Linked DNA regions of Homo sapiens: region 1 is linked to region 2. Evidence: fine-mapped expression QTL. A gene starts in region 2. The other region holds a variant in brackets. All regions are shown on one strand. Distances are from middle to middle.

Region 1 (5,525 bases), 73 kb after region 2:
GTGAAGCTGAAGACATGATGTATTAGGGGGTCCCAGTGCCCACAGGAAATCCCACCCCCAAGCTAAAATCTTGGAAACAAGGATACCCCTGAGAGCTTGCCCAAACCAAAATAGAGGATGTCAGCACCGGAGAAGCCACTATAAAGGTTAGGATGCCTTCCTGGACAAAATAATGGAACCTGGCAATCGAACCAAATCTTCACTGAATGTAAAGAAGAGTTACTATATCTGGAAGAAAAAGTCTGTTCACAGAGGGGTGGTGCCTGGAGCCTGGAGAGGGAAGTCCAGAGACCCTGCCCTTGCCCCTGTGGCTGCCCGGGCTGCCCTGACCAACTGCACATGAGCCGCAATGACGGGAGCCCTTGGATTCCATAGTGACTTTCCTCACACTGTGCTTCTAAGTCAGCTTATAAGTACAGTTTGCTGAGCTATCTGGAATTTTCCCTAGAGAGAGAATGCATTGGCCAACCAATATGTTCTAGCCTGCTTGGCAGTTTTATTTCTCAATGTCAATTAATGGGTCTCTTGAGCACCTGATAGTGGGAATTAGTCCTCTTTGACCTTCTCCCATTGGACTTGCTGGCAAATCTAATGTTCTAGACCTGAGGGCCACAGGCTAGAGTCAACCATGCTCACGACACTGTTATCTCTCTCTGACTACAACAGATCCAAGAGTTCAAACAAACAAACAAAAAGGACGTTTCTCCCTTCTGTTAACTTGTACTGAGGAGGAAAAGCATGTGTTATTATTTTGTTTGTTTGTTTTGAGGGCCAACTGTAAGGATTTTTATTTTGGTAGGTAGAGGAAAGTCCTGTTGAAAGGTGCATTACCAGATTCAACATTTATACTATAGTCTTTGTTTTGTTTTGTTTTGTTTTGTTTTTGAGACAGAGTCTCGCTCTGTCACCCAGGCTGGAGTGGTGCAGGGGCTCAATCTCGGCTCACTGCAACCTCTGCCTCCCCAGTTCAAGGGATTCTTTTGCCTCATCCTCCTGAGTAGCTGGAATTACAGGTACGCACCGGCACGCCCGGCTAATTTTTTGTATGTTTAGTAGAGACAGGGTTTCACCATGTTGGCCAGGTTGGTCTTCAACTCCTGACCTTAAGTGATCCACCCGCCTTGGCCTCCCAAAGTGTTGGGATTACAGGTGTGAGCCACTGCGCCCAGCCCTATACTACAGTCTGAATTCTGCCTTAGGCTGGGCATGGTGGCTCATGCCTGTATTCCCAGCACTTTGGGAGGCGGAGTTGGGAGGATTGCTTGAATCTAGGAGTTCAAGACCAGCCTGGGCAACATGGTGAGACCCCATCTCTACAAAAAATATAAAAATTAGCTGGGCATGATGGCCTGTGCTTGTAGTACCAGTAACTTGGAGGGCTGAGGTAGGAGGATCACTTGAGCCCAGGAGGCAGAGGCTACAGTAAGCTGAGATCATGTCACTACACTCCAGCCTGGGTGACAGAGTGAGATACTGTGTCAAAAAAAAAGAAAGAAAGAAAAGGAAAAAAAAAAAAGAAAAAGGAGAAATTCTGTCTTAAAACACAGGATATTGTTTGTTTGTTTATTTATTTATTTATTTTAAGATGGAGTTTCACTCTTGTTGCCCAGGCTGGAGTGCAATGGTGCAGTCTCAGCTAATTGCAACCTCTGCCTCCCACATTCAAGCGATTCTCCTGCCTCATCCTCCCAAGTAGCTGGGATTACAGGTGCCTGCCACCACGCCTGGCTAATTTTTGTATTTTTAGTAGAGACGAGGTTTCACCATATTGGCCAGGCCAGTCTTGAACTTCTGACCTCAAGTGATCCACCCACCTCGGCCTCCCAAAGTGCTGGGATTACAGGCATGACCCACCATGCCTGGCTTCTCTCATAATTTTGAATTTAAATAAATAATGCAGATTGACTCTGAGCTGAGAAAAATTTTATTTAATGACATAAAATTCGTATTTTACTTGAGTTTTACATTTTTAATGCTCCTTTCTTTGACAGAAAAAGCAGACAGCTCTGAAAGAGAGGCACTCATGTCAGAACTCAAGATGATGACCCAGCTGGGAAGCCACGAGAATATTGTGAACCTGCTGGGGGCGTGCACACTGTCAGGTAACCCACTTCCACGAAAATCACCTCATCAAAAAGACTGTAGCTTGATGACAAAGAGGATGTTTGCTCTCTCTCTCTCTCTCTCTCTTTTTAATTCTTTGTCTTTTCTCAGTCACAGTGTGAACTCTCAAACCCAAGTGGAATTAGACACTGAGCACTCTATAAATCAGAGGGGTCAAAATAAAGAATGCCTCATTCATCTGCTTTATCGTGATATATTGCATAATTCTCACCTGCTTAAAAACAACAACAACAACAACATTGCAAGTACATTTGGTGGTGTCTGTGCTTCTCTCCCAGCTTGGAAGCTGGTGCACAGGCGTGGTGAGAGTGGTTACAGAGCCTGGCCACTGCCCCAGTTGGGCTGCCGTCAAATACGGCACAGCCTAGCTAGGATATCAGACTTTACTTTCCCAGAATTCTCTGGGGCATGCCCTCTGATCTTCTCTCTTCTGCCTAGAAATACCCAAATGATGTGCCCAAGGTTCATTCTTTCTGCAGCAGCAGGCCTGGGGCTGGTACTAAAAGAAAGGAAAAAGAGGAAAGTGAATCTGAGAGAGGACTGGGAATATATTTCTCCCTCCTCAAGCAAACAGCAAATCAGCATATAGTTACCAAGTGTTCACCTATAATACACAGCTAGAACATTACTTTCAGTTGCCA[A/G]CTGGAGAATCCAGGAGGCCAGTGGTATTGGTGAGGCCACACATACAAAAAAGGGCCACAGAGAATGTCAAGAAGATGCTGCTTTCCAAAGAAATTTGAGCAAAAGCTGAAACTGAATTTAAAGTATAAGAAGAGCTAGGCTCAGAAAAAGTTGTACTGTCCCCAAGTCAGCAGAGAACCAAGCCCTCCTAAGAGTATGTTGTCTGCTACATAGACTTCTGAAATAACAGTTTGCTTTGTGTATGCCTATAATTGAAACTGTAACTATTTCAGGACCAATTTACTTGATTTTTGAATACTGTTGCTATGGTGATCTTCTCAACTATCTAAGAAGTAAAAGAGAAAAATTTCACAGGACTTGGACAGAGATTTTCAAGGAACACAATTTCAGTTTTTACCCCACTTTCCAATCACATCCAAATTCCAGGTAAGAGGCTGGGTCAGGGTTTCGTAATTACACATCATAGAACGTAGGCAAAGTGTGCTGTTCAAACACACTTCGTTGACCAGTTTCTAAAGGCACCGTGAAGTCTGTGGGTCCTGCAACCTAGAGATTTCCTGAATCTTTGCTATAGTTTCCCTGTTGACATGGAACGAGTCCTGTCCCTTTCCTTCAGTACAGGTACTATAGCTGAGCTAGTCTCTCTCCACCCATGCCTGCATCACACCATAGACGCCTATTTGGTTTGGGGAAAGGTGCATTATTCGGTCTTTCAGGACACCTGGTTGCCTCACAGGTATTGGTAGAAAGAATGAAGACTTTTTCCAAAGTCCTTAACATATGCAAAGAGAGCAGCTCGGGTCCTGGGACTATTGCGCAAAAGAACGCTGAACTCAAATTGGATTCTAAGATATTAGGATGGATTGATCGACACGTGATGGGGACACAGTAAAGTAGCAGTAACCTTGTCTCTGCTCTGTGTTTATCCTCCGCATCCATGGGGATCCTGAGAGATGCTTGGTCCTGCAGGGATTTATTGCTTTAGCGGGCATAAATGAGGGCTGTAGGAGTTTGCTGGATCTCCTCCTCATCCTTGAACTTTCTTGCTAATTACTTGAGCATCATGGCTTTGTAGCACCTTTCTCTGAATGGATTCCCAGGCATTCTGATGGAGGCATTCGTTGAGCCTTGGAGCATTCTTTTTTTTTTTTTTTTTTTTTTCAGACAGAGTTTCGCTCTGTTGCCTAGGCTGGAGTGGTGCAATGGTGTGATCTCGGCTCACTGCAACCTCCACATCCCAGGTTCAAGCGATTCTCTTGCCTCAGCCTCCCGAGTAGCTGAGATTACAGGCATGTGCCACCACGCCCAGCTAATTTTGTATTTTTAGTGGAGACAGGGTTTCACCATGTTGGTCAGGCTGGTGTTGAACTCCTGACCTCAGTTGATCCACCCACCTAGGCCCCGCAAAGTGCTGGAATTATAGGCATGAGCCACCGCACCTGGCTGAGCCTTGGCGCGTTCTTATTTCCCTCCCTGTATGGAAGTTCTCCCTTATTCTGAAGGGTATTTGTTTATTGGAGACTTTTTTCTTTACCAGGGGCTTTTTAGGGATACATTTGAGAGTCCCGGCTTTGTTTTCTTAGAATGTAAGTTTTAAGTGCAGGCCTCTGGCCTTCCAGGTCTGAGACACAGACCCAGTGTCTTAAAGCCACCAGGCCCCACGGAGATCCCCATGCACGTCCGTGTGCAGCTGCCCTTAACCTATGCATGCCCGTCACACCGTCCTCTCCTTTACACTCATTTCCCAGCTCATCGTCTAGAAATGAGAACTCTATAAAGCCACTCATATTCTGGAACAGAGGGGCTATCCTACTGAGTCCGATGTGTGTGACCAGTATCCACTGGTCAGTACTTAGCCCCTTTGATTCGTTCTGTTCACTGGAATATTAAATACACTGAAATTATTCCTTTTGGAATATTTGTGGTCTGAAAGCATGAAGCCATTTCCTAAAGATATGTAAATTGTAAATTGGGTTAAACTCGTATATTAGAATAAATTGAATCGTGATCTACTTATAATTCCTACAGAGCTCCTCAGGGAAGAATTTTTATATACCTTAAAAGAGATTTGTATTATTGCTATTTATTAATTTCACAGTAAAAAGAAATGAGCTTTACAAAGGCAAACTGGAAAAAAGAAGGATGGTGAAACGCTTACGGGACTCTCGGGAAGATCTGTATTATGTGAGGGAAAGTGGGCTGAGTTCAGAAACCAAAGAATGAGATCGATGTGAGTCCTGGTTCCACTCGAATCATATTTATCTCACTGTGCCTAATTTCTCTTTTATAAAATGCCACCCATCTCATAGGTTGTGGCAAGGATTGAGTGAGGTCCTTTTTGAACTGTAAGATTCTATATGGAAAACAGGGATTACTTTTATCTTAGACTGGCAAGCCCAGTTACACAGATGTTTTTAATGTACACAAAAAATGGACAAATGGATGGTGTGCTTTTAATTTAAAAGTCAATTTATAACTGGAATCCATTTATTTGATGAATTACATTTTTAAAATAAAATGTCTGCTGAGAAGAATAATGTAAATAATGAAAAAACAAAATTTTTTAATAGCATGCCTGGTTCAAGAGAAGTTCAGATACACCCGGACTCGGATCAAATCTCAGGGCTTCATGGGAATTCATTTCACTCTGAAGGTAATATTTTATTCTAAGTAGTAGCACTTTAAAATGGAAATGAATGCAAAAGTTTTATGTTAGCTATTTTTTAAAAGTGTGTAAACACAAAAGCATTTTAAAATTT
Region 2 (5,000 bases):
GTGTGTTAGGTCTTGGCCATTGGAAGCTCGCTTTTCTCCCCATAACCAGCCTGTTTCATTGCTTTATCTCCTCATGTTTCACTTATTTCAGGCCATCTTCCTTCACTTCTGTTTCTGACCTAAGGTAGACACAACACTCTTTAAAAAAATTTTTAAACCCCCAGCAGCTACACAAAAACTTAAAAAATTTAAAATTGAGGTAAAATACACATACATAAAATTTACCATCTTAACTTTTTGTTTTTGTTTTTGTTTTTGAGACAGAGTCTCACTCTGTCACCCAGGCTGGAGTGCAGTGGTGTGATCTCAGCTCACTGCAGCCTCTGCCTCCCGGGTTCCAGTGATTCTCCTGCCTCAACCTCCCAGGTAGCTGGGATTACAGGCATGCGCCACTACGCCTGGCTAATTGTTGCATTTTTGTAGAGATGGGGTTTCACCATGTTGGCTAGGCTGGTCTCGAACTGCTGACCTCAGGTGATCTGCCCACCTCGGCCTCCCAAAGTGCTAGGATTACAGGCATGAGCCACCGCACCCAGCCTTAGCCATTTTTAAGTGTACAGTTTAGTAGCGTTAAGTACATTCACATTGTTGTGCAACCAGTCTCCAGAACTCTGCTCATCTTGCAAAACTGAAACTCTGTATCCATTAAACACTGGCTCCCCATTTCCCCCTGCCCCCAGCCCATGGTAACCACCATTTAACTTTCTGTCTTTATGAATTTGTAATGGGATACAGTATTGTATTTTTTGGGACTAGCTTATTTCACTTAGCATAATGTCAAGATTCATCCATATTTTAGCTGTATCAGAATTTCCCTCCTCTTTAAAGCTGAAAAATACTCAGTCGTATGTATATACTGCATTTTTGTTTATCATTCATCTGTTGTGGACATGGGTTACTTCTGCCTTTTGACTACTGTGAATAATGCTGCTTTCAACACGGGTGTACAGACATCTCTTCAAGACCCTGCTTTCAATTCTTTTGGCTACATGGCCAGAAATGGAATTGTTGGACCGTATTTTTTTTAATTTTTTGAGAAACCTCTATAGTGTTTTCCATAGTGGCTGCACCATGGTAGACACTTCTAAAGTTTCTGCCATACCCTAGGGGAAAGAATTATTGTACTGTAGACAACATCTAAGGAAAAGAACTGTATGGCCAAGAGTAAACAGTCAATTTTCATGCTTTATTAGAAAATAATTAAAATAATTAAGAGCGTGGAATTCCTAGAATTGGGAGAGACATTATGAACCATTTGGTCCATCCCTTTCCTTTACGATGAGTAAACAGAGGTTTGTGGAGGTCAAACGGCTAGTTAAGTAAGGGAAGAACCAGAACTGGCATCCAGAGCTTTCCAATCCTCAACTTATTGCAAAGAAAATAATAATAATTTTCAACTCGAAAAATTATGCGATGAAGAACAAGAACTATTGAGCGGATGATTCGCAACATCCTCTGGGATGTATTTTCTGTGTGTTTTGTTTTGAAGGCTGTTTGTTAACCTCCCTAATTGCCTTGGTTGACATTGAAACCCTGCCTGTTTTTCTTGATCCCGCCGCTGACTGGGTCCTGAGCATCCTAGGAGATGGAGGCAGAGACAAAGGAAATCAGTCCACAATTAAGAATGGAATGGTTCTTAATGGAATGCTCGCCTGTGCGCTGGCGGGAGTTGCCAGCGTGCCGAGCGGATTCAGCGCCTTTCTCAGGGCCTCAAAGATCCCAGCGCACTAGGAGGGTGGTTTGTGGCTCCCTGCAGTCCCCACGCCCCGGATCCAAACGACAGAGTTCGGGGACTCACAGGGGCAGCAAGGCGGCAGAGCCGCGGAGCCAGTGCAACTTCTCCGGCGGGACCGCGCCCAATCTTCCCCGCCGCAGTCGGGGAGCCCCGGGGGCCGCCGAGCACAGGCTGCGGACCGCGGCGGGCACGTGGGCTCGGCTGCAGCGCTGCGCCAGGCACCGGCTGCTCGGCTCTGCCCAACCTCTCCGCTCCCGCCTCGGTCCCTGCCTCTGGGGAGAGGGTTCCTCCCCCCTTCCACTTTGCACCAGTCCGAGGGAATTTGCGGTCGGTGACGCGCATCCTTAAGAGAGCCACCTGCAGCGCGAGGCGCGCCGCTCCAGGCGGCATCGCAGGGCTGGGCCGGCGCGGCCTGGGGACCCCGGGCTCCGGAGGCCATGCCGGCGTTGGCGCGCGACGGCGGCCAGCTGCCGCTGCTCGGTAAGGCCCCGCTCGCTCGCTCGCAGCCCCTCGCGGTCCCTCAGCCCCCACCCCGCAGTGTGGACCCGGGCGCGCGCCTCCTCCGGCCCAGCCGCCTCGCTCCTCCCCGCGCTCGCTCCTTCCATTGCCTCCCGCGCCCCTCCCCTCTTTCGCGCCCTCCGGACTCGCCCACTACTTGCCTGCGGCCCCGGCGTTTCCCACCCCGCGTCCTCTTCCCTCTTCTCCGAAGTCTCTCCTCTGGCTCGGGCCGCGGTCCCGAGTGGCGGCCCGGACTTCGCAGACGGCCTCGCCGAGGCGCTGCGCCGGGTCTGGGGCAGCTCGGCCCGCGCGCTCGGGTGCTGGGCCGTCCGTGGGAGTCTGCGGCCGCGAACTCGGCGCCAGGTGGCCAAGGACCTCTCCTGGCCCGGCCCTTGGATACTGTAGACACCTGGGTGTCGTCTTTAACTCTTCTTTTGAGGTTTTGATTTATGGAGGGAACTCTGATGGGAAAATGCGTCCGCGTTCTCCCCTAGAGCGAGTCATCCTCAATAACGATACCCCCCAGCCCCGCCGAATTTTGGTTGGATCAACGAATAGTTTACCTAGGAAATATTATGCAAACAGATTTACATATTAAAATACTAGCTGTCCCTTTCTTCTAGTCTCTTCTTATCCTGGCATAAACCCCAAAGGGGTTTTCAAGGACTCCGAGGACTGTCCCCAAAGAATCTGCTGGGTAGCATAGTTGTTATTGAAAAAAAAAATCTTCCCATCGGTTCGCGTCAGCTTTCTATTTGGAAAGATGAGAGGACTGAATCGAATTTGGGTTGAAGGCGACAGAGTTCTGGGTGCCCGGCAGCTCCGGTCCCTGTCCTAGGTCTGCAACCTTGGGACTGACACTCACCTCCCCCGGCCTCCGCGTCCTCATCTGTGCAGTGAGGGAGTCCGTCCGAGTCCCCTTCAGCTCTGAAATGCTAGGACTTGAAGTCTCTGTGGTAAATAGAGAAAATGCTTGCAATATAGAAGTGCAGGAATTATATCCAATAGCTTTTGTTACAAATAATTCTGAAATATAAAAAGTAAAAAATGGAAATCGGGGGAAAAGAGTTGAAAAACAAAGACATTTTAGTTCTTAAATAGTTATCTTTACTAGTTAGTAAATCTGTAATTTCAAATGTGTAGTACAATATGTTTTCCAGATTCCGTTAATACAAAATGTTAGCTTTCTATTATGTATGATATTAAGTAGTAAGTGCATTTTTCAGAAGCATAATGGGCTTTCTAAAGGTATAAGCATCAATACTTGCAACGATATTTAAGCTGCATGGAATTCTTTTCTATTTAGGAAAGAATTCAGAAATTTCTATGTCTCTCTCTCCAGATATTTCTAAATGAAGTATAATTGGCACACAGTAAATATGCACACATCTTAAGAGTACAATTTCATTAGTTTTCACATATGTACGTGCCCAAATAACCACGATCAGACTGAGATATAGAGCAATTCTAGCTCCACCCTCTCTGTCAGTACCCCCTCCCCAGGTAGCCACTATTCTGACTTCTGATGCCATGGATTGCTTTTGCCTATGTTTGAACTTCATGTAAACCAAACCATCATCGTGTGCTCTTTTATGTCCACCTTCTTTTACTCAACATTATAATAATAAGATTCAACCTTGTTCTCTGTAGCAGTGTTTTTTTTTTTAATTGCTGGTACCATTCCGTGGTATGAATAGATCTTATAATTTATTTTATCCATTATGTTCACGAAGCACATGGAAGTTGTTCCAATTTTGTGTAATTATGCATAGCACTGCTGTGAACATTGTTTTATATATGGTGGACATAAACACCAGTATAAAGGATTATGCCCACAAGTAGAATTCCTGGATCATAGGGAAGGGATATGTTCAGGTTTGGTAGATACCGTCAAACGGTTTTCCACAGTGGTTACACCAATTTCCACTCCCACTAGCAGTGTATGGCAGTTCCAGTTCCTCACATCTTTGCCAATACTTTGTATTATGGATTTTCTTGAATAAAGAAGGATAAAGTGAGAAGCTTAAACATGAGAACTTTAAAATGGTTAATAGCCTTAAATTCTTTGAATTAGAACATGGGATCCCAATTTCCCTTATATTGTAAACACTACTTTTTTTTTTTTTTTTTTTTTTGAGACGGAGTCTTGCTCTGTCACCCAGGCTGGAGTGTAGTGGCGCGATCTCAGCTCACTGCAACCTCCGCCTCCCAGGTTCAAGCGATTCTCCTGCCTCAGCCTCCTGAGTAGCTGGGATTACAGGTGCGTGCCACCGCACCCAGCTAATTTTTGTATTTTTAGTAGAGACGAGGTTTCACCATGTTGGCCAGGCTGGTCTCGAACTCCTGACCTTAGGCGATCCACCCACCTCAGCCTCCCAAAGCGCTGGGATTACAGGTATGAGCCACCACACCCGGCCATGCCCAGACTTCTATTCATCATTTATGAATAATGATGAAGCTTTCTAAGTGGCATTTGAAGGAGAGGAACATGTTCCCAATGGGCTTTTCTGCATTATCTGCTGATACTGGACAGAGAGAAGTATTTCAATATTTTAAGAGCTATGATACTACCTTTTTCATTAGTGTTAAAAAAAATTCGTATTCAAAGCCTTGAACTGCACATTTGAGTTGCCATTCTTTGCTCTTGTTGCTTATCTTAGTTTATTTGCCTTCTTGGAAACTCCTAGCCCAAGGGGGAATGATTCAGGAGAAAGTGGAGGGAAGGGACACTCAGCAAAGCTTGGTTTGGATTGGATGTGAGCCCAGA

Which allele goes with the higher level. Alleles are on the strand shown, and positions count from the first base shown. SD is a standard deviation of normalised expression in the study named.
In carriers of allele G in region 1, the expression in spleen of the gene that starts at base 2,107 in region 2 tends to be higher than with A alone (moderate effect, 0.46 SD a copy in GTEx).

What was found. PIP is the estimated chance that this variant, and not a neighbour inherited with it, causes the effect.
Region 1: its variant is the best candidate, but not a certain one, in a credible set for the expression of FLT3 in spleen (GTEx, PIP 0.73).

What each region holds. Positions count from the first base shown.
Region 1 is chr13:28,024,755-28,030,279 of GRCh38, reverse strand. FLT3 (fms related receptor tyrosine kinase 3) reads left to right here. Exons shown (of 24, transcript NM_004119.3): 16 at 1,992-2,102; 17 at 3,039-3,192; 18 at 5,337-5,419. Among named protein-coding and RNA genes, the nearest start is that of URAD, 39 kb to the right of the region's middle. The variant A/G (reference allele first, on the strand shown) is at 2,766.
Region 2 is chr13:28,097,683-28,102,682 of GRCh38, reverse strand. It overlaps FLT3 (fms related receptor tyrosine kinase 3), which reads left to right and starts at 2,107. Exons shown (of 24, transcript NM_004119.3): 1 at 2,107-2,215. The coding sequence starts at 2,173. RefSeq lists an enhancer at 1,694-1,823 and silencers at 1,934-1,993, 2,114-2,273.